4 linked regions of the Homo sapiens genome follow. The protein of the gene in region 3 interacts with the protein of the main gene of each other region in a pairwise test. Each region holds a gene or a part of one and is shown on either strand. Other genes may lie near its edges. The genes, in order: KLF15, L3MBTL2, NRF1 and SP4.

Region 1 (5,318 bases), on a different chromosome or scaffold from region 3:
ACGTAACTGCATATACTGGCCTCTCCGAGTCTCACCTCTGCCTGCTCAGGATTCCTAACACTTTCACAATTACCCACGCCAGTAGGAAATGGCACAGCCACGTTCCTAAGGGGGTAAATACTCTGCCAAGGCACAGCAAACATATAGGGCATGTGTAATAGGTTTGGTGGACTGGATGGGGGTAGGAAGTGCAAGAAAGGGTCTCCGATAGCAGAGTAGGTGAGCCTCGCAGGACTGGCCAGGCCTGAGGCAGCTTCCCACAGGTGCTGTCGGAATGTGGGCTGGATTTGGGTTTACGGAGCTCCAGGTCAGGGAGCCGGGATGAGCAGAATCTCAGCAGCTGGCCTGGAGCTGAGCTGTATGGGAACCCTACCCTGCTGGACCGGGGCTGGACCCCAAGGGGCCTTTCTATCCCTCCAAATACAAAACAGAGTTCCCTGAACTCTGCGAAGGTGGAGACATAGACTCGGCCCCAGAGTCACCTCCACATCCCGGCAAAGCAGGAAAACAGCACATGAATGCCAAAAGCTGTGAGTTCTTTTTCTTTTTATTGGCAAAGTAAATATATTTTTATGAAGGACCAAAGAAAATATACGTAATTGTAACATATGTACACCAGCTTCATAGATTTTTTTAAATTTCAAATTTACACAAATGTTGATATGTTATTAAAAGATATTTTATGTGGATGGACCTATGTACAGTTTATTTACATACATTCATAGGATGTGAAATAAACCTGTCAAAACAAGCTAGTTCATTTATTAATTTCTAGACAAAATAAGGAATGCATTTCTAAATCAGGGTTGGGAGGCTCTATCTAGTTCTCTCACACCCAGGACAGCCTGGCCCTCTCCTCCCAAGGCCACCCTAAAGGCTGGTGTCTGGATTTGTCTGGGAAACCGGAGGAGGGGACGAGCCCCTGGGTACAGGCCCTTCTGGCTCTGTCTGCCCTGCACATTTAACTCAAGCACATGCACTGCCAGCCCCCTAGTGGGGGACGCTTTTCACCTCTCTCCCACATGAGGGCCCAGCGGCCCGGTCCTGCCCCCCCCCCCCCCCCCCCCCCCCCCCGGCTCCAGGGACCTGCCCACACCCTCTGGTGATCATGCTGAGCAGGCATCTTAGACAAAGCCACCCTCACACCACAGTGCAGCCCTGGACTTCTGGCCTACTTCCTTCTCCTCCAGCATGACTCTCTCTGGAAACCCAACATTTCAAAACTGCACATTTCATCTTCCCCTAGCACTAAAGTTCTGGCCTTGGCCCAGGATGGGGGAGCCCAGTGGGAGAAGGGCCAGGTCCCCAAAACTCTGCCTGCAACCAGCGGCTGCAGCAGAGGCCTGGCCACCGCGGGAAGGCACGAAGGCACGAAGGCACGAAGGCCTGCCTCCAGCCCCGTGCGCCTGGGGCCCAGCCCCCAGGGACGCGGGTTCGAGGCTCTAAGTACTCCCGAGAAAGGCAGCGGTTGGCGGGCCCTGGGTTCACACCTCCCAGGCTTCAGAAGGTGGGCTGGTAACATTGCCATGTCCCTCTGGAGGAGGCAAATAAATTATTGCTTAAAAAAATGGGGATGGGGTGGGGATCCGGGGTGACGGACAGGCTGGGGTTCAGGGCGCTTTCAGTTCACGGAGCGCACGGAGCGGCTGCTCCGCGGGAAGCGGTGCACCTTGATGTGCTTGGAGAGGTGGTCGCTCCGCGCGAACTTCTTCTCGCACACAGGACACTGGTACGGCTTCACACCTGAGTGCGAGCGCCTGTGCCGCGACAGCTCGTCAGAGCGCGAGAACCTGCGGGACATGGCGCGGTCAGCGAGGCCTGGCCCTGCCTGCCCCTGCCTGCCCCGACCCCACGAAGTTGCCGGGATGCAAGGCGTGCACCTGGCACTCACCCAAAGGGTGGCTGCGCAGACCTGCAGCCTCTACAGGATTAGGGGAGGGTCCCCCATCTACGTCGGTAAGGCTATACCAGTTCTCAAAATACCATTTTTTTTTCTTTTTTTGAGACAGGCTGGAGTGCAGTGGCGCCATCACAGCTCACTGCAGCCTCCCGGGCTCAATCAATCCTCCTTAGCCTCCAGAGTAGCTAGGATTACAGGTGTGCCCACCACACCCAGATAGTTTTTGTATTTTTTTTTAGAGACCAGGCCTCCCTATGTTGCCCAGGCTGGTGTCAAACTCCTGGGCTCAAGCGATCAGGCTACTTCAGCTTCCCAAAGTGCTGGGATTAAAGGCGTGAGCCACTGTGCCAAGCTGCCCCTGCCACCCCTCCAAGATGGAAAGAACTACAGTAAAGGCTCATGCTGGCACAGTGGGCATTCTCTGTTGGGAACTGCCAGAGCAGCTGGTAAAAGCTCCCAACAGGAAAGGACCCCAATGCTACCAGGGACCAGGGCTTCCCTCCCACAGCCCACCCAGTGTGCAGGGGTCTCTGAGGCCACAGGTGCACTCAGTCGCTCAGGCCCTGATGCTGGCTGCCTCTCACCACCCTGGCCTCATCTACCCCACTGGACCAGAACTCCACAGGGGCATCTGTGAAGGCCTGTACAGGACCGCCCATCCGGAGGGGAAACGGAGGCCTGGGAGGAGGAAGCAGCACAGGGAGAGAGGTCCTCAGACTTGAGTCCACCCACTCCTGAAACCAGCTGTGCTGGAAGCTGGGCCCTCTAAGGCAGGCCCAAATAAAGATTGACCCTGCAAAGTGTATCTGGGAGTTCAGGTGGCTCCCGACATTTCGCTTTCTTGGCCCTGCTGGCCTGGGAGCAGGCACTCATGTGACAGTCAAGAGCCCAAGCTGCATCGAGGGCCTGGACTGCTTGCCACCAACCTCAGGGATTTGAGGCCCTCTCCACCCCTGGCTTGGCAGCAGGTCCCTCCCACCCCACCTACCCCTCCCACGACACACTATCCCGCTCTGTGCTCCACCTGCATTGACCTTTCCTTGGTCCTTCTTGCCACAGGCCATTTGCACATACTGTTCCCTCTTTCTAGAATGTTCTTCCCTCCCCCTCCTTGCTCTCTCCTACCCATTCCTTAGAGCTCAGCTCGAATGTCACTTCCTTAGGAAATCCCTCCAGGACTGCATCCAATTCTAGGCTCCTGTGGCATTACACACCTCTCTCTCCTCATTCTTGCTGTTGTTTTGATTTTAAATTATCTTCAACTTTTTGATGACTGTCAGTCTGTCCCACTAGACTGTCAGCTCCATGACAAAGGACATGTTTGTCTTGGTTCCCGGTGGTCTTCCCATGACCAGCCCAATGCCTGGTATATGGTAGGTGCTGAGGAGGTGGATTTCAATGCAAGAGTGGGCACAGCAAGCAGCCCTAGGGGGGCAGACACTGTCAAGGAGCAGTCCCAAAGCATGCACGCACACACACACGGACAAATACATGCCCACACATACAGGCACACAAACATACACGGACGAATATGTGCCCACACATACTCACACACACACACACACAGGCACAAATTCATGCCCCCATGTACTCACGCACACACACACACACAGGGACACGAGGCCCAACACCCCTTTGTGGACCAGGGCCACCCAGCGAGAGGCGGTGCCCAGAGCAGCAGTTCCCACCCAGCAATTGGTAAGGGCTGGTGATGCCCTGGCGCCCTGACCCTGTGGGTGGAAGAGCAGAAGGACCCAGCAGAACATGCTCTGGACAAGGCACAGGGGGTGGCAGGAGGGCCTGCAGGAGGAGACAGGAACTCCGACTCACATCACAGAGTGGTGGTGGCACCAGGCACAGGGCAGTGCTTTCAGCACATCTCCAGACTAGGTGAAGCCCAACTGCCCTGCCTGTCAGAGGAGGAAACTGAAGCTCAGGGTGCTGAGGGCCTGGTCCAGGTCACTGACAAGACAGGGCCCCTGAGGCTGGAGCAGAGGTCTTGACACAGCCCCCTGCCCTGGCAATGGCAGATGACCTGGACTCCCAGTCAGCAGAGCCCCCCAGCCTCCTGTACAGGCCTGGATGGGTGTGTGTGTCACAGGGCCCTGTGCCAGTGAGGAAATGGGATAAATGTGCCCTGGCAGTCAAAGCTGACACCTGTGCTCCTGGGCAGGACACCTGCCCCCAGCTGCAGCTGGGCACACAGCTTCTGAGCAGAGGAGCTGGCCCAGGGCAGGGGTAAGCAGAAAGCTGCAGACACAGAGTGCCACGCCTCCCAGGCTGCAGCCCTGGGGTCACCCAGCATCTCACTGGCCAGGGAACCAGGATGAGCCAGCCCCATTGGACTGGCAAGACCATGGCAAGGGTTTAAAGAGGCCAAGTCACACAGCCCAGGGGACAGAGTCTCAGGCTCCTGCCTTGACAGTTCCCACCCCACTGGGTGCCCTGAATGGTCCTTTCTGGGCCTCAATTTCTTCATTCATCCAATGAAGACTCTGGCATTCCTGCCCACCTTCCAAGACTCATCTCAAAGGCCACAGGTGGTGACGTGGGGCCACACAGATCTCTGGTCATGGTGACACCCTGGGAAGGACAGGCAGATGAGATAGAACCAAGCTGGACAACATGCTGTCCTCACCTGAATTCCCTCCCTGCTGCCACAGGGTCCTGGCACCTGAGAGGAACTTCCCTGGGAACTGAGCCCTCAGAAGACCCCCTGCCTCACCCCTGCATGCCACATTCTCCCAAACAGCAGCCAACAGAGAGCCCTGGGGACTACAGTGGGGGATGTGGGAACCCGGTGGGTAAGATGCAGCCCTTGTAGGCAGTAAGCTCTGCCACTTACCAACCAGGCAAACTAGGAAAGTCACCAAGCTCCCTGAGCCTCAGTTTCTCTACCCAGACAAAGGGAGAACAAAAGACCTATTCCTGAGGACTGTGAGGATTGTACAAGGCAACCAGTAACGGTTTAGAGCCCTGCTTAGCACGTGGCAATTATTCAAGAATGATGAGCTCTTATCACCTGCATGGAGTTGAGTGTTGGGCCTGGTTCCTGGTGGGTCCTGCTGCAGACAGGGCAGCACTATGATTTGTGCTGAGCTGTAGGGCAGAGGGTACACAGGGGTCCAGTGTCTCTCTAGAGCAGCTATAATGTCAGGGCTGGTGCATACAGCACTTCTGTATGAAGGCGTCCCTTCCTTGAGACACTAACCCTCATCCGCCAGACAACACCGCAAACAGTCCAGTCTCAGAAACTGCAATGGAAATGGTGCTCCCTAGAGTTGTGCAGTTCACAACCTGCCCAACCATACTGGGGGCCTCTGCCTACAGAGGGAAGGAGGTCAGAAAAAGCCTCAATGCAGAGGGGTCATGAGAGCAGGCTGGGAGCCAGACCCCTAAGTTTGAATCCTGCACCTAC
Region 2 (6,942 bases), on a different chromosome or scaffold from region 3:
CCATCTCTACAAAAGAAAAAAAAATTAGCCAGGTGTGGTGGCATGCGCCTGTAGTCCCAGCTTCTTGGAGCTGAGGTGGAAGGACTGCTTGAGCCTGGGAGGTCAAGGCTGTAGTGAGCCATAACCATGCCACTGCAATCCAGCCTGGGCAAGAGAATGACATCCTGTCTCCAAAGAAAAAGAAAAAAAAGCTGGGTGCGGTGGCTCACACCTATAATCCCAGCACTTTGGGTGACCGAGGCGGGCGGATCACTTAAGACCAGGAGTTCAAGACCATCCTGGCCAACATGGTGAAATCCCATCTCTAGTAAAAATACAAAAAATAGCTGGGCATGATGGTGGGTGCCTGAAATCCCAGCTACTCGGGAGGCTGAGGCAGGAGAATCACTTGAACCCAGGAGTTGGAGGTTGCAGTGAGCCGAGATTGCACCACTGCCCTCCAGCCTGGGCAACAGAGTGAGACTCCTTCTCAAAAAAAAAAAGCTGGGTGGTGGTGGCATGCACCTGTGGCTCTAGCTACTCAGAAGGCTGAGGTGGGAAGACAGCTTGAGCCTGGGAGGTCAAGGCTGCACTGAATCATGATCACACCATTGCACTCCAGCCTGGATGACAGAGGGAAGACACTGTCTCAAAGGAAAAAAAAGGTGTGAAGAAAGGAGAAAAGTTTGGCCTCTGGTCCAGAGCTCAAATATCTCTAGTGCTTACTCGCTGTATGACCTGCAGCAAGTCAATTTTGCAGTGCTTCAGTTTCCACATCTGTACAATGAGGATAGTACCACCTATTTCATAGGGTTTGGGGGCTGGCCATGGTGGCTCATGCCTGTAATCCCAGCACTTTGGGAGGCCGAGACAGGAGGATTGCTTGAGCCTAGGAGTTCAAGACCAGACTGGGCAACATAGGGAAACCCTGTCTCTATAAAAAATGGAAAAAATTAGCTGGGTGTTTTGGTTAGGGAGGCTGAGGTGGGAGGAACTCTTGAGCCAGGGAGGTCAAGGCTGCAGTTAGCTATGACTGCACCACTGCACTCCAGCCTGGGTGACAGAGAGCAACCCTGTTTCAAAAAAAAAAAAAAAAAAAAAAAAAGGATTTGGGGGAGAAGTAAGAGACGATACAGGCAAAGCTCTCAGAATAGTGACTTGCATATAGTAAGTGCTCAATAAAGGTTGCCAATTTTTACTGGTTGAAAGCATAGGCTCTGATTTGCCTGAGTTTGAATCCTGGCTCTAACATTTATTAACTGTGTGATTTTGTGCGTATTTTATCTTGCTGCTGTCATCATTACAAGAGAGGTAATAAGCTTTCTTTAGAGAATTCTTACGAAGATTGAGATAAGATATGTAAAACCTAGTTCTATTTCCAGCAGTCAGTAACAGCTCTAAAAGTGTGACTTGCTATTCTTATTCTCCACATGATTATTCTCGTTTACCCTTGCAGAAAGTTTGAGCTATTCCACCTTATATTTGCAACTACACATGCAAATATGCTAGAAAGGAAGCAATTTTTTTTTTTTTTTGAGACACAGTCTCGCTCTGTCGTCCAGGCTGGAGTGCAGTGGTGCAGTGGCCCGATCTCGGCTCACTGCAAGCTCCGCCTCCCACGTTCACGCCATTCTCCCGCCTCAGCCTCCCGAGTAGCTGGGACTACAGGTGCCTGCCACCACGCCCGGCTAATTTTTTTGTATTTTTAGTAGAGATGGGGTTTCACCATGTTAGCCAGGATGGTCTCGATCTCCTGACCTCGTGATCTGCCCGCCTCGGCCTCCCAAAGTGCTGGGATTACAGGCGTGAGCCACCGCACCCAGCAAGGAAACAATTCAAATATAGGTACCCTTGTCAGGCAGGGTGACAGAGACCACCTATAGTCCCAGCTACTTAGGAGGCTGAGGTGTAAGGATTGCTTGAGCCCAAGAGTTAGAGGCTGCAGTGCGTTGTCATCACGCCTGTGAGTAACCACTGCATTCCAGCCAGGGCAACATAGGAACACCCCGTCTCTTAAATATAAGGTGCCCAGAAACCAAATGATTAAAGGATGAGGCGGGGTGCAGTGGCTCATGCCTGTAATCCCAGCACTTTGGGAGGCCGAGGTGAAGCAGACAGATCACCTGAGGTCAGGAGTTCGAGACCAATCCGACCAACATGGCAAAACCTCGTCTCTACTAAAAATACAAAAATTAGCCGGGTGTGGTGACACATGCCTGTAATCCCAGGAACATGGGAGATGGAGACAGAATTGCTTGAACCCGGGAGACGGAGGTTGCAGTGAGCCGAGATCGCGCCACTGCACTCCAGCCTAGGTGACAGAGCAAGACTCCGTCTGAAAGAAAAAAAAAAAAGGATGAGTGGGTTCCAGGTTGCAGTACAGTGTGAAAAGCATAACAGGCAAAGTTTCAGAGGCGGACAGACTTAGTGCCAATCTCCTTCACTTTCCAGCCGGGGTAACTTCCTGGGGTGTCGCACCACCTCTAAGCCTCAGTGGCTTGAACGACAAAGACGAAAGAATAATACATGATTGCTGTGAGTGTACTGGAAGATAATGCACGTGAACGTTACAGACAAGGAGTGATGTTCACCCAACTTTAATCTCCCTTCACTTCCCACCTCATGTAACAGGCCTCACAAGCCCTAAACAACACAGCCACGAGACAAGCAGGATAAGGAAGATTCAGGAGCTCTCAGATCCTAAACCTAGTTCCCTTTCCCCCAGGCCAGGGACGGCTGTTCCTCCCTGAACTCCTCGCCGAACGTTGGCCCCAGCAGGAGAGGGGCAAAAAGTAACGTCAATTGCCTCTGCCCCTGGCTCAGTTTAACTACCTCAGTTTATCCATCCTCCCACCCTCCACCCTCCAGGCGTCGCTAAAAGCCCTAAAGAAGGGCCCACGGAGCGAGGCTCTCGGAGTTCCCTTTCCCAGTCACGCTAAGTCCTCGCCTTCTCACCTCAATACTCCGGGGCTTCTCCATGAGACCTCAGTTTCGCCAAGCGTCACCAGGTGCAGGAAGCCATATTGGCCTGCCCCGTCGCTCTCCGCGAGAGCACTCATTGGTCGCCTCCCTGAGCCGCGGGCCAATCACGCTGCAGGAAGGAGGAAAAGCCGGTTCCGTGCCTGCTCCCGCCATTCTCTCCCTGTGGGCGGGGAAGCCGCGGGCGGTTATGGGAATTGTAGTTCGCATGTGTGCAGGGTGAGTCGTTACCATAGCGACGTGGAAACCAGGGGCGCTGGAAACCTGGTGCGCCTCACGCCGAGTGTTCCAATTACGCCAACCTCTTGACTTCACTGGATGTTATTCTTCCCTAAACGGTTATTGAGCACCTATGATAGTCACTGTTCCAGACTCCAGGAATAACCTCGTACTCTCCCGGGTTAGATATTTAAGGTGCCCTTTTGCTGGGATGCATAGCAGAGGGACTCATTTCCAACTCAGGCAGAAACTGGACTACTCCAGATTAAAAAGAAAAAAAAAAGGAAGAAACTGGAATACTCTGTGTGTGTGTGTGTGTGTGTGTGTGTGTGTGTGTGTGTGTGTGTGTGTGTTTTCTTGAGACGAAGTCTTGCCCTGTCGCCCAGGCTGGAGTGCCGTGGCGCGATCTCGGTTCACTGCAACCTACGCCTGCCAGGTTCAAGCGATTCTCCTGCCTCAGCCTCCCAAGTAACTGGGACTACAGGCGCCCACCACCAAGCCCGGCTAATTTTTGTATTTTTTAGTAGAGACGGGGTTTCACCAGGCTGGTCTTGAACTCCTGACCTCGGGATCCACCCGCCTCGGCCTCCCAAAGTGCTGGGATTACAGGCGTGAACCACCGCGCCCGGCTGAAACTGGAATATTCTTTTTCTCAATACTGTAAATGTCCAGCCTGCTCAAAATCTTACAACATTCCTCCTTCACCACTCTCTCCTGGGTAAAAACCTCGAATCTGAGGCTCTCTGCCTCATCCCGTTAGGGTTTCCCACAACCTCCTTAGACACCCTGAGTTCTAGGTGCTGTTGTGGAGCTTTGCAAACATCTTTTCAAACCCTTAGACATCCTATCACCGTTTGAAAGAAGAGGAAGTGGTGGCTCTTCACCACTTCAGGTTTAGGCACTTTCCAAGATCACACAGGATTGGGATTCCAAATTTAGTACAGATTCCTTCCCTATGCCATGCCGTGTCCCAGTGAATTAATTGAGACTCTAAATGCAATATGTGGAGGCTGAATACATATAAAATATATGCCTAAATTTGAAGTCCGCCGTGGAGATGTCAAACTCTTCCTAGAGGTCTTTCTTTCCTTCAACCCCTTCCACCCTAAACCCCTGTATCCATGCTGTCAACGTGTTGGTTTTTCTACCTCCAAAATATATCCTGTATTTCCTCCACCACTACCACTCTAATACAAGCCACCGGCCCATTGCAGCAGCCCTTCAACTGGTCACCCTTTCTTTCTTTCTTTTATTGATTGATTGATTGATTGAGATGGAGTCTCCCCTGTCGCCCAGGCTGGAATGCAGTGGGATCTCCACTCACTGCAACCTCCACCTCCTGTGGTCACCCTTTTTAAATCTTCACCTTTAATACACACAGGTGATCTTTAAAACTCATTGACCTGGCCGGGTGCAGTGGATCACGCCTGTAATCCCAGCACTTTGGGAGGCCAAGATGGACAGATCACAAGGTCAGGAGATCGAGACCAGCCTGGCCAAGATGATGAAACCCTATCTCTACTAAAAATACAACTATTAGCTGGGTGTGATGACGGGTGCCTGTAATCCCAGCTACTTGGGAGGCTAAGGCAGGAGAATCGCTTGAACAAGGGAGTCAGAGGTTGCAGTGAGCCGAGATTGCACCACTACACTCCAGCCTGGGCAACAGAGCAAGACTCCATCTCAAAAAATAAAAATAAAAATAAATGTTCTGGAATAAGATAGTGGTGAAAAAAAAAGAAAAAGACAGGTTGGTTCAGCAAGTGCAAAGGCCACATTGGTGGAACAGCAAGTGCAAAGGTCCTGGGGCCAACTCAAGCTTGGTATGCAATAAACAGAAAGACAGAGAGAGTAGATGGATATAGCAAAACATGGAGAGGGTGATACAAGATGAGGTTTGAGAGAAAGCTGAGACCAGGTCATTCAGGGTCTTGTGGAGTGCTTGGATTTTATTCTGTGCAAGGGAACGGCATTAGAGTTTTTTTGTTTGTTTGTTTTTGAGACAGAGTTTCACTCTTGTTGCCCAGGCTTGAGTGCAATGGCGCGATCTCGGCTCATCACAACCTCTGCCTCCCAGGTTCAGGCAATTCTCCTGCCTCAGCCTCCCAAGTAGCTAGGATTACAGGCATGCACCACCACACCTGGCTAATTTTTTTTTTTTTTTTTTGTATTTTTAGTAGAGATGGGGTTTCTCCATGTTGGTCAGGCTGGTCTCGAACTCCCGACCTCAGGTGATTCGCCCACCTGGGCAAATGGTCTTGATCGCCTGACCTCGTGATCCGCCTGCCTTGGCCTCCCAAAGTGCTGGGATCACAGGCCTGAGCCACTGTGCCCAGCTAAAAATTTTTTAAAATTAGCTAAGTGTAGTGGCATGTACCTGTGGTCCCAGATACTCTGGAGGCTGAGGAGGGAGGATTGCTTGAGCCCAGGAGGTTGAGGCTACAGTGAACCATGTTCATGCCACTGCACTCTACCCTGGTGACAGAGAAAAAAAAAAGTTGTCTGGCTGGGCATGGTGGCTCACACCTGTAATCCCAGCACTTTGGGACGCTGAGGCAGGTGGATAACTTGATATCAGGAGTTCTGCCAGACGCGGTGGCTCACGCCTGTAATCCCAGGACTTTGGGAGGCCAAGGTGGGCGGATCACCTGAGGTCAGGAGTTCAAGACCAGCCTGGCCGACATGGTGAAACCCCATCTTTACTAAAAATACAAAAATTAGCCGGGCTTGGTGAGGCATGCCTGTAATCCCAGCAACTCCGGAGGCTGAGGCAGGAGAATCGCTTGAACCTAGGAGGCGGAAGTTGCAGTGAGCTGAGATCGCGCCATTGCACTCCAGCTTGGAAAAAAAACAAAAAAGGAATTCTAGACCACCCTGGCCAACATGGTGAAAACCCTGTGTCAATTAAAAAAAATTACAAAATATTAGCCTGGTGTGGTGGCACAAGCGTATAGTCCCAGCTACTTGGGAGGCTGAGGTGGGTGGATCACTTGAGGTCAGGAGTTTGAGACCAGCCTAGCTAACATGGTGAAACCCCATCTCTACTAAAAATAGAAAAATATTGGCCGGGCACAGTGGCTCATGCCTGTAATCCAAGGACTTTGGAAGGCTGAGGCAGGTGGATCACCTGAGGTCAGGAGTTCGAGACCAGCCTGACCAATATGGTGAAACCCCATCTGTGCTAAAACTACAAAAATTAGCCGGGTGTGGTGACATGCGCCTGTAGTCTCAGCTACTCGGGAGGCTGAGACCGGAGAATTGCTTGAATCAGGGCGGTGGAGGATGCAGTGAGCCGAGATTATGCCACTGTACTCCAGCCTGGGCGACAGAGCAAGATTTTCTCTCAAAAAACAAACAAACAAACAAAAACCAACAACAACAAAAAAGTTGTCTGGGTGGAATAGCACAATGGCAGGGCATAGAGCAGAAGAGGTGAGTTTAAGGGATTTATGTACATAGTTTGGAACAGAAGAGCACGTTTGTGTTGCTATTGGGAGTGATCTAGTAGAGAGAGACAGATCAATGATCCCAGACAGAGGGACAGTGATGCACAGAGGGAGGGCCTTAAAAGAGAGGAGCGTATTAGGTCCACATGTAGAGGGATGAATTAGTCCAGCCAAAAAGGGTACCTTTGCTGCAGGATGAAACCCCTGCCCAGGAGCTCCATAGCAGAAGGAACTGCCACACTGTTACTGTTCTGGGGCGGCCACTATTGCTTAGCAACCTGTGCTTAATAAGATGTTTCAACTGAATTCCTAATAAACG
Region 3 (2,901 bases):
GCCTCCTGGGTTCAAGCGATTCTCCTGCCTCAGCCTCCTGAATAGCTGGGATTACAGGCGCCCGCCACCATGCCCAGCTAATTTTTCTATTTTTAGTAGAGACAAGGTTTCACCATGTTGGCCAGGCTGGTCTGGAACTCCTGACCTCAAGTGATCCACTCACCTTGGCCTCCCAAAGTGCTGGGATTACAGGCGGGAGCCACTGTGCCCGGCCTAGGATTTTTTAAATACGATTTTTTCCCCAGAACGTCAGTATAAGAAAACACGTTATATATGAAATGTATGAAATGGAGCAGGTCTGGTGATGGGGCTCGCAGGGGGCTCTGGGCAATCTTCAGTGTCTTCTTTACGGAGGTCCCCAGCGTCGGAGTGGCACAGGTCGGAGACCGCTGATCTCGAGTAGGACTGCATTTTAAACGCAGAACGAGCTGCCCCAAGATAGAGTTCCTTTTGCCTAAGAAGCCAAGAGCTCCTATAGAGATGAACAATTCCACTTCCTGTTGCCACATTTTTAACTATTTATTGAATGAGGCAGTCAAAGACAGAATGGGAAACAACACAGAATCCATGCTCTGCTACTGGGGTTTTGCTTTTTTCTTCGTCTTGGCAACTTCTCAAACTATTTGGAGGTTATTTCACCACAAAGGAACATGGACTTTAAAGTCCCTGGACAACTTCACAATGACGATAAAAAATAATAATTAAAAAAATAACAAATTGTAGAACTAGGACTATTTATATGTAAATTTCCCTCCCCTCCCCCCATTACGTACAGAAAAGAACATATAAAGAACATTAGATAGTTTTATATAAAACAAGCAAATACAAGAATCTGAAACTTCTCTCAAAGGTTGAGCAAGACGTGGAGAATCTTTTAATGTCGCATTAAAAAAACACATTAAATACACCATCACACACATGGGGAGAGCTGGGAGGAGGGAGGAGGAGCTGTCCCTGTACTCAAGGTTCAGAGATTTGGCCTGTTGAAAAGTCAGGTGAATTCAGCTACTGGAGACTCAGGGCTTGCAGCTGAGAAAGACAGAGTTAACGGTTACCAAGAACACCCAGATAGTCAACACCTCTGAGGAGGCAAGCTGCTCCCGGCCTGGGCCACGAGGTTGCATCAAGGAACATGGGCCTCCAGGAGTCCCTTCTGAAGCAGGGCCTGATCCAGGAACACAGCAAACACCCTCAGCTGTTTTCTATGGCCAGGTGTCCCTTCTTCCCTTCCGCGTACTGACCGGGCCCAACCAAGCTTAGCTTCCAAGATCACACAAGATCAGGGGCGTTCAGGGTGCTGTGGCCACAGACCAGATGTCTCTTCTTGTTCATTCCAGCGCCTCCTCTGTGAAGCTACAGACAGTAGAGAAAATTGCTCCCACGGGTGTATCCTGGTCTAGGACGATTTTTCTTTCCTTCCTTTCCCTTCCACTGCCCCCGCCCCCTTCCCATCCTCTCCCCCACCATGCACGCACACACACAAGCACACTTACACGCACGCACTCCTCAAACCCCTAATACTTCGGTTACCTTCAGTTCATATATACGAGCAATTCAGGACTGACCTTAAAACCAGAGCAACATTTTAATAGTCATGAGATCAAGGATTCCTGGGAAGGAGAGGAGATGGGAGGCTGAGGCCCGGGAGCTTTCAAGACATTCATCTGCCTGTGGCAAGGTCAGCACCTGGGCCAGCCCGAGGAGCATCTCAGCTGGCAGACCACGCAGTCCCTGGACCTTGCAAGCACATCTCTGACCCACCCCATGCTGGAGCCTCTTTCCTCAGGTGAGTCCAGCAGGGAGAGTTCTGTGTGGCCACTGGGAGGCAGCTTTGGTGAAGGGCATGGTCACCTCCGCCTGAGTTTGTCAGTAGCTCAACGCATGACCCTGGTATGAACAAAAACTGGGTGACTGTGTCTGGCCACGTACCCTACCACCCACTAAACTGGGTGAATTATTGTTTCCACAGCGCACCTTGATTTCATACAGATAATTCCATGCGGGTTTCATACATATATATATATATATATGTATATATATACTTTATATATATGTAAATGTGTATGTCCATATGTACACATATACATATATTCACACTCACACATACACACACATAAGTATACACACACATTTCCGCAGAAAGAAGTCCTGCCACAATTTGGCTTTTTTGGGACAGTGAAATTGACAATGCAGTTTCTTCACCAATCCCAGAAAATCAAGAGTGGTGCTTTAAAAAATGCAATTCCAAAATCCGCTTTCTTCCTTTTAAAAAAAAAAAGGTTAACAAAACTTTCCTTCCAAAGTCGAGAGACTTAATTCCATTTGATTGCACCTCTGCAAACGTGTAAAAAATTTTGAAGTAGACTAGAAAACGATGCCATAATATGGCTGTATGTCACTGTTCCAATGTCACCACCTCCACAGCTTGGCCGTCCATGGTGACTGCGCTGTCTGATATCCTGGTGGTCACAGGGGCCATGGCCACCTGCACTGGTCCGTTGCCCTGGGCGAGGCTGGTCACCACAGTCTGGTACATGCTCACAGGGATCTGGACCAGGCCTGGAGAGACAAAGAGAAGACCGTTGGTGGGGCTCAGGCTCAAGTTCCCAGATGCTGGCTGGACGGGGGCACCCAAGTCTTGCCTTTGAGGTATCGTGGTCACCAGCCTCAGGTGATCACATACCCATGGCCCAGGCACAAAGACATCTCTTTCCCACCCCATTAAAATTTTTTTCATTAATTTTTAAGATTTATAATTGATATATAGTAACTGTTCATGTTTATGGGGTACAATGTGATGTTTCAATGCATGTATACACTGTAGAATGATCAAATCAAGAAAATTACCATATTAATCTCTTTAAAGATTTATCATTCATTGTGGTGACAACATTCAAAATC
Region 4 (7,044 bases), about 110 Mb from region 3:
AATTATAACCCAAAGAACAAAAGAACTACTCATGAGACCATACCAATGTAAATAAATGATTGCATAAATAATTGGAGAAGAAAGTATAAGTGGTACAAAGAACAAGGAAAATTGAAAATGACCTTTCAAACATCACAGTAATAACTGCTGCAGGCAAGATCCACTGAGGAATGCTAAAAGTGAAGCTTTAGTATTTTATTTGTAAAAAAGCCCCCCAAACTCCTCTAAAATAGTAATTATTGTGGTGGTTTTAACATATGTCCACAAATTCTTCGATACTTCTCCCTTCAGGAGGTGAAGCTTAGTTCTCTTCCCCCTGAATGTCGACTGAACTTAGTGACTTGCTTCTAACAAACAATATGGAAAGAGAGAAACTGTAACTTTACAGTGAAGAAATGTGGCACACCCTACATTAACCAATACATCAGGGTTAACATCACCAATAATGAGATAATCACATTACATACTTCCTCTTATATGATAAGAGAAAGACACTAATGTGCTATTCTTCTCATGACAATTCACAATCTTACTCTAATCATTAGAAAACATTAGACAAACCCAATGTGACAGACATTCTAAAAATACCAAAACCACTTTCAAATGTGTCCAGGTGATAAAAGACAAGGAAAGGACTAGGAAAAGTCACAGATTGCAGGAGACTAAGGAAACATGACAAACAAATGCAGTGTGTTATTCCAGACTGAATCCTGGAAAAGAAAAGGTATATTGGTGGAAAGTGTAATTAATAGTATTGCAACAATGTTAATTTCTTAATTCTCATAAGGTACTGTGGTTATACAAGAAGTTTACAATAAGGGAAGCTTGGTGAATGATATGCGAACTCTATGCTAGCTTTGCAACTCTTCTCTAAGTATAAAATTATTTCAAAATAAAAATAAAGCTGCAGGGAAGAAATCAGGTCACCTACAGAAAAAAAAAACAAGAAAAAATAACAAACCTCTTGTTGATAAAACAGATGAAAGAAAATAGAGCTGTGACAATGTTTTAAGAGAATGTAATTTTCAATCTAGAATACTGTATTAGCCAAACAACCAAATTAAGCAGAAAGAGAAAATAAAGAATCCTTTAGACAAATTTATTTCCCCAAGCTTTTCGTTAGGAAGCATTTCAGCACGTTTTCCAGCAACGAAGAGAGTAGACCAAGAAAAATGAAAACACGAGATCTTGAGAACCAATATGAGATCTAAAACGAACAGAGAAGGGAAGAAATCTCAAGATAATACCCCTGGAACAGGTCTACAGAAGAAACTGTTCATGTTCATTAGAAAGATGGAAGGCTCCAGAAAAAAGGAAAATGTGACTGGAATTCACATTGTTCTTAAAAACTTGAAATAACTAAAGATTATTTCAGGTAAAGTCAAACAATACAAGAAAAAAGAAAAGGCATTGTCTAACTTTATTGGAAATAGAGTGGTGAGTTAAGAGAGAATGCCTGGCCTGCATACAGTTTTTCAAAAGAATCTTAATGTCTTCAGATGGTGCAAAGTGAAGTAAATCCTTAATTCTAAATGCAAGAACTCAATAGATAGTATAAAATATTGATAGATCAATAAATAACAGTGTTTAAGTATATGATTTAGATACATGACAGTCATCCTAGAAAGAACAAAAATGCAAAAATAGTTAAAATAGTTAGCTATGATATTCTCTGGAAAGCAGGATGGGGTGGGGCAAAGAGCCTCCTTATTACAGTAAACTTTTCTGTGATTTCATTTTTAAATACCATATGCATATATTGTTTTGAAAACCTTTACAAATTTTTTTAAAAAGCAAACAGATCACTATTTTCAGCAGTGAATACAAATAACTCCATTCATTCATAGCCAAGTCAATAAGTTTCTATTTGTAGTAGTGGTTAGACATCAAATAAAGCATAGTTGTTGCTACGAATGGTTAAGGCTTTCAACTTAACATATTAAATGCTTAATCAATACTTATTTCAAAATATATTTTTTCATATTCTTTTAGACAAATTTAACAAACAGGAGTTACTCTGTTAAATCTTTAAAAGTAACAATTTTAAGTATACTGATATTAATATTTTTTAGTGTCAACCTGTTTTAATTAAACAATTTTATGTGTGATATATTTAAGATGTTTGAACCACTGAAAGTAAGCTTAAAGTATATTGGATTATGAATTGTCAATCCAGTAGATAATAATGGTGTGAATCTTTTTTTTAAAGATATGCCCCAAATCATAATATTTGGTTTTGAAGTATATGTATATATAAATTCTTAAATAAATTTGTTTTGTGTATCTGCAAGTGTGTGGATGTGTAAGAGAGAGGGACTTTACCAACTCATCATTTCTTAGACAAAATGAAGCAATCATAATGTGAGGTTCCAAATCAAACAAAGTAGAAAATTTTCTTGGCTTCCCTAATTTATCCCACTGCTAATCCAGGATGGAAACACTGCATCCTTTCATGCAGACCTAAATAGCAGAGTATTTTTCTAAAACAGATATCAACAACTGGTATGGAATTAACTTTTAATCAATCATATTTGCCAACGTCAATGGTGTATATACTATACAGAAAGATTTCAAATTATCTTTTTTAAAATTAAAATTCAGAGCTTTACTATAATGCTAACTTTTTCAGGGATTGCGACGCTATACTAACACAGGGTGAGCATCCCTAATACAAAAATCTAAAATCCAAATTGCTCCAAAATCTGAAACTTTTTGAGTGTTGACACGATCCCACAAGTAGAAAATTCCACACATAAGTACTTAACACAAACTTTCACACATAAAATTATTAAAAATATTGTATAAGATTACCTTCAGTCTTTATGTATAAGGTATATATGAAACAAAAATGAATCCCCGAAGTATTGCATTGTGCACATGCAAAATCTGAAAAAATCCGAAATCTAGAACATTTCTAGTCCCAAGCATTTCAGACAAGGGGTACTCAATCTGTACTCATTTGTATTACTACTTTATGTGTATATCAAATTAAATAACTTTATATTTACCATTTTTAATAGATTTCATAATTTTTTCTTTTCTGATACTACTTTCTAATCTTAAAATGGAGCTAATTTCTATGCCGGTGTTGCTGTTGTTAGAATCAAATGAAGTAATATATTCAAAATATCTGACTATAATATAGCAGCTGATTTAGAAATGTCAGTTTTATTTCTCCCTTTGTCCCACATGTATCTTGGTACAGGTTTAAAGTATAAAGTATAATTCAATAATTTATTGAAATTAATTTATTCAATAATGAAATACTGAGTCCCAAATTCTAAATATTCTGAAAAGGGTAGGTGTTCTGGGCAAAAAAAGAAAAAAAAATAAAGAAAGAAGGAAAATTGCCCAAAAAGAAGTCAAGGCTTAATATAAAACCACAGTCATTAATATAGTAAGAGCATTGGTGTAGGAACTGGCAAATAGATAAAAACTTCAAAACAGAGAAACCAGAAATTGAACCACACTTAAAGGAGACATTATGTAAAAGAGGACAATCAATAGAGACAGAATGGGCTGTTTAAGAAAGGGCTTTCCATATGAAAGAAAAATAAAATTGTATTCTCATTTCATTCCATCAACAAAAAGAATCTTGAGCGAATAAAAGATCAAACTTACAAAAATAAAACTTTAAAGCTATTAGAAGAAATTGTTTTTTGAGACTTTATGACCTTGGGACAGAAGAAAAATTTATAAACAAAAAGCAAAAGACAAAAGAAAAGATTTATATTTGACTAAATAAAAATGTAAGACTTCCATATGACAAAAGGTATGACAAAGATAAAAGACTAGCACTAGTCCTTTATTGAAAGGGAAAAGTATAACATATAAATCATATAAATAAGGAAAACTTCTGAAAGAAAAAATGAGAACCAGAATTAAAAAACAAAGCCATAAATGACTAATATACATATGAAAGGTGCTTAATCTCATGGATAACCATGAAAAACACAAATTTTTAAAATAAGAAACAATTTTAGATTGAAAAAAACTTTCAAGGCCTGACACTACTGGGTACTGGTGAGCACAAAGTGGAAACTATCAATCACTGCTAGTTAAATAGCCACTGTAGAGACTCTTTAGCCATTACCTAGCAAAACCAAACATACACATTCTCTATGATCCAATAATTCCACTTCTCACACATGTTCTCATCAACTAAGTTTGTGATAGCACACACAAACCCTAGCAATAACCTCAAACAGTATGGGAATGAATTAATATAGTGTGGTAGACTCATGTGATAAAATATTATATAGCAGTTCAAGGAAATTCATATATGCAAATATACATATATGTACAAACAGATCTCAAAACAAGTGAAATTTATAATTCTGCAACATTGTAACATTTCATAACACACACAAAACATTTTTTATGTAGATCCATTAATCATATATGTCAGAGTATTAAAAGTGTACGTAAAACTTAGACACATTAGATTTATAGCAGCTGCAGTCTTTGAAAGGTGAAAGGGTAAACATGATGTTCACTTTATAACTGCTTTGCTGTATTTGAAAAAAAGCAGAAAATATAATATTAACAACTGACCATTCTGACTGAGGGTTGTTAGATGTTTATTATTTAATTATTCTTGATACTTTGGTGAATTTTCTGGATTTGTTAAGAAAAAAAAAAACTAAAACACACTAATGAAAGTCCCCATTAAGATGATAATTCAACTCTCTTTTCACCTATTTAAACACTTATGAAAAACAATGTATGATTTCAACATGCTAAGATTACAATATAAACAAATGGAATAAATTCCACTTGTCTCATAAATATGCTGATAAAGTTTACAAAAAGTAGAATAAAATGTATCTCAGAAATGAGGTTAAAAATGTTCATCTTAAACATCTTCCATATAATTGCTAAAGTAAATGCCTTCTCCTTCATTTGCATATTTCCAATTTGATAGCTAAACTATCACTAAAATTTTCATGTAAAAACTGAAGAAATAAGTAAAAAGTACAAGTCCTAAAATCAACTAACCTGTATGGGTTCTTCTATGTCTCTGGAGCTCATCACTCCGTGTGAATCTTTTGCCACAAAACATCCAGTTGCATATAAAAGGTCTTTCTCCAGTATGCCAGCGAAGATGTGCTCGTAAATGAGATGTTTTGCCATAAACTTTACCACATCCTTCAATATGACAGATATGCTGCTTCTTTTTTCCTGGTTCATTACTGCCTCTAGCAAAAACAAAAACCGAACATTAATTACACTGCCAAATAGTAGGTTTACAATTATAGAAAAATTAAAAAGAATCAAGGTAATTAAATGATGCTTCTCTGAATAGGTTTGATCATGATGCCATAACTGTAGTTCAAATCAGAAAATTTTCAGTTAAAGACAAAATAAAACAGGTCTGTGTACCAAATTGCTATGAAAATGTGTTAATCTCAAAGAGTTTATGCTCTATTATGGACTCACGTTCCTGGTCATAGTGGGCTCTTCCCTTGGGAAAAAAATCTCTCTAAGCCTTTCAAAACACTTGAAACTTCTCTAAAATTTCAAAAGGATGGCTAAATCCAGTTAAAAGTGTAAGATGCAGAGTTTCGTTTCTAGCAGGGCAGTGTGAGGAGTTCCATGGATCTGTTTCCCAGTGAAAATTCTAAAAAAAGCAAAAAATACCATTTAAAGTCTCTGGAAATGGTTCTAAAAGCAAATAACAGCAAATAAAGAAACATTTATTCAAGAAAATCTCACAGAAATTGGTAAGAACAGTAAGAGTCTGTGGTATTTGAACCAAGACTCTCCCCTTCCCTACTTCCTCCCGTTTCCACACAGGAACATTAGAGACTGGTGCAGCTAAGAATATGATTCCTACTCTTCCCACCTCCCGGTCAGAGGAGTATGGCCCCAGGAGGGGCAAGATGTCTGCATTTCTTATCTTACCCCTGGTTGCCTGTTGCTAAGTTCCAGGCAAGTGTAGCAGAACCAAGTCCTTAGCCCTGGGACATAGACTCTACCTTGGATGTGGCATGATGAAAATACTGGGGTCCAGGTTGCCCTTGACCTGGCCCATTCATAGTTCATAAAGTCAAAGTTCTAAGCCAGGAGAGGCCAGTTGAGAAGACCTGAGGCTATTGCTGCCCCAGCAACCAGGCACTCAGCTCTTAAAGCAGGGTTGTAACTCAGAAAGAAAGCCACTGTCTCAACCCCCGGTTCAAAAGCCATAAGTCAGAAACACACCATAAAACAAAGAGCTCCAAATCTCTTCCCAAAGGAATTGACTTCATTTGCAAGACAATGTGAAGAAGTTCAAGCCTAAGGGTACTCTCAAAAAAAGTAGAGATGGTTTCAAAAGGCAGTTAATTGGGAGAAGACTAAGAGATTCACTGGAAATAAAGGCTTAACTACAGGTTGGCTAGTTTGCCAGAAAGAAGTGAGCAAAGAGGCTGTGAAGAACCTTCTTAGGGTCAGAAAAAATGTCAAATATTGAGATTCTTGGGAAAAGTAAACAAAACTAACAAACTTTTAGCTAGACTGACCAAGAAAGTAGGACTCAAATTATTAGAATCAGAAATCAAAGAGGAGATATCACTACCAACCTTATAGAAACAAAAAGGATTACAAAGGAATACCATGAACAATTCTACGGCAATTACTTGGGTAACTCAGAGGAGATGGACAAATTCCTAGAAAAATACGGACCAAAATACTAAAACTGACTCAAGAACAAATAATCAATCAGAATACACCTACAACAAGCAACTAGACTGAATTCGTAATTAAAACTACCCATAAGAAAAGCCCAAGAACAGACAGCTTCACTGGTAAATTCCACAAAACATTTAAAGAATTAATACCAGTTTGGAGGGAATACTTTCCAATTCATTCTATGAAGCCAGTATTATCATTACCAAAATCAGATAAAAACAATACAAAAAGAAAACCACAGACATCTCTCTTATGAATATGGATGCAAAAATCCTCAACAAAATACAAGCACACTGTCAACATTGTACCAGAGGTTCCAGACAGAGAAACTAAGCAAGAAAAAGAAACAGAACTCCTGCAGAGTAGAAAGGAAAA

What was found.
Region 1: the proteins of NRF1 (region 3) and KLF15 interact in binary tests that used the Homo sapiens proteins (3 or more experiments, as listed by UniProt).
Region 2: the proteins of NRF1 (region 3) and L3MBTL2 interact in binary tests that used the Homo sapiens proteins (3 or more experiments, as listed by UniProt).
Region 4: the proteins of NRF1 (region 3) and SP4 interact in binary tests that used the Homo sapiens proteins (3 or more experiments, as listed by UniProt).

The regions. Positions count from the first base shown.
Region 1 is NC_000003.12:126,342,106-126,347,423, forward strand, and holds the end of KLF15 (Krueppel-like factor 15), read right to left. Parts: intron 1,791-5,318; coding exon 1,622-1,790; 3' UTR 530-1,621; downstream 1-529. UniProt on the Homo sapiens protein: Transcriptional regulator that binds to the GA element of the CLCNKA promoter. Binds to the KCNIP2 promoter and regulates KCNIP2 circadian expression in the heart. Is a repressor of CCN2 expression, involved in the control of cardiac fibrosis.
Region 2 is NC_000022.11:41,201,379-41,208,320, reverse strand, and holds the start of L3MBTL2 (lethal(3)malignant brain tumor-like protein 2), read right to left. Parts: upstream 3,010-6,942; 5' UTR 2,959-3,009; coding exon 2,935-2,958; intron 1-2,934. UniProt on the Homo sapiens protein: Putative Polycomb group (PcG) protein. PcG proteins maintain the transcriptionally repressive state of genes, probably via a modification of chromatin, rendering it heritably changed in its expressibility.
Region 3 is NC_000007.14:129,754,676-129,757,576, reverse strand, and holds the end of NRF1 (nuclear respiratory factor 1), read right to left. Parts: intron 2,560-2,901; coding exon 2,396-2,559; 3' UTR 501-2,395; downstream 1-500. UniProt on the Homo sapiens protein: Transcription factor that activates the expression of the EIF2S1 (EIF2-alpha) gene. Links the transcriptional modulation of key metabolic genes to cellular growth and development.
Region 4 is NC_000007.14:21,480,078-21,487,121, reverse strand, and holds part of SP4 (transcription factor Sp4), read right to left. Parts: intron 5,621-7,044; coding exon of another isoform or gene 5,542-5,620; exon of another isoform or gene 5,199-5,541; coding exon 4,999-5,198; exon of another isoform or gene 4,998-4,998; intron 4,698-4,997; coding exon of another isoform or gene 4,669-4,697; exon of another isoform or gene 4,564-4,668; intron 4,512-4,563; coding exon of another isoform or gene 4,498-4,511; exon of another isoform or gene 1-4,497. UniProt on the Homo sapiens protein: Binds to GT and GC boxes promoters elements. Probable transcriptional activator.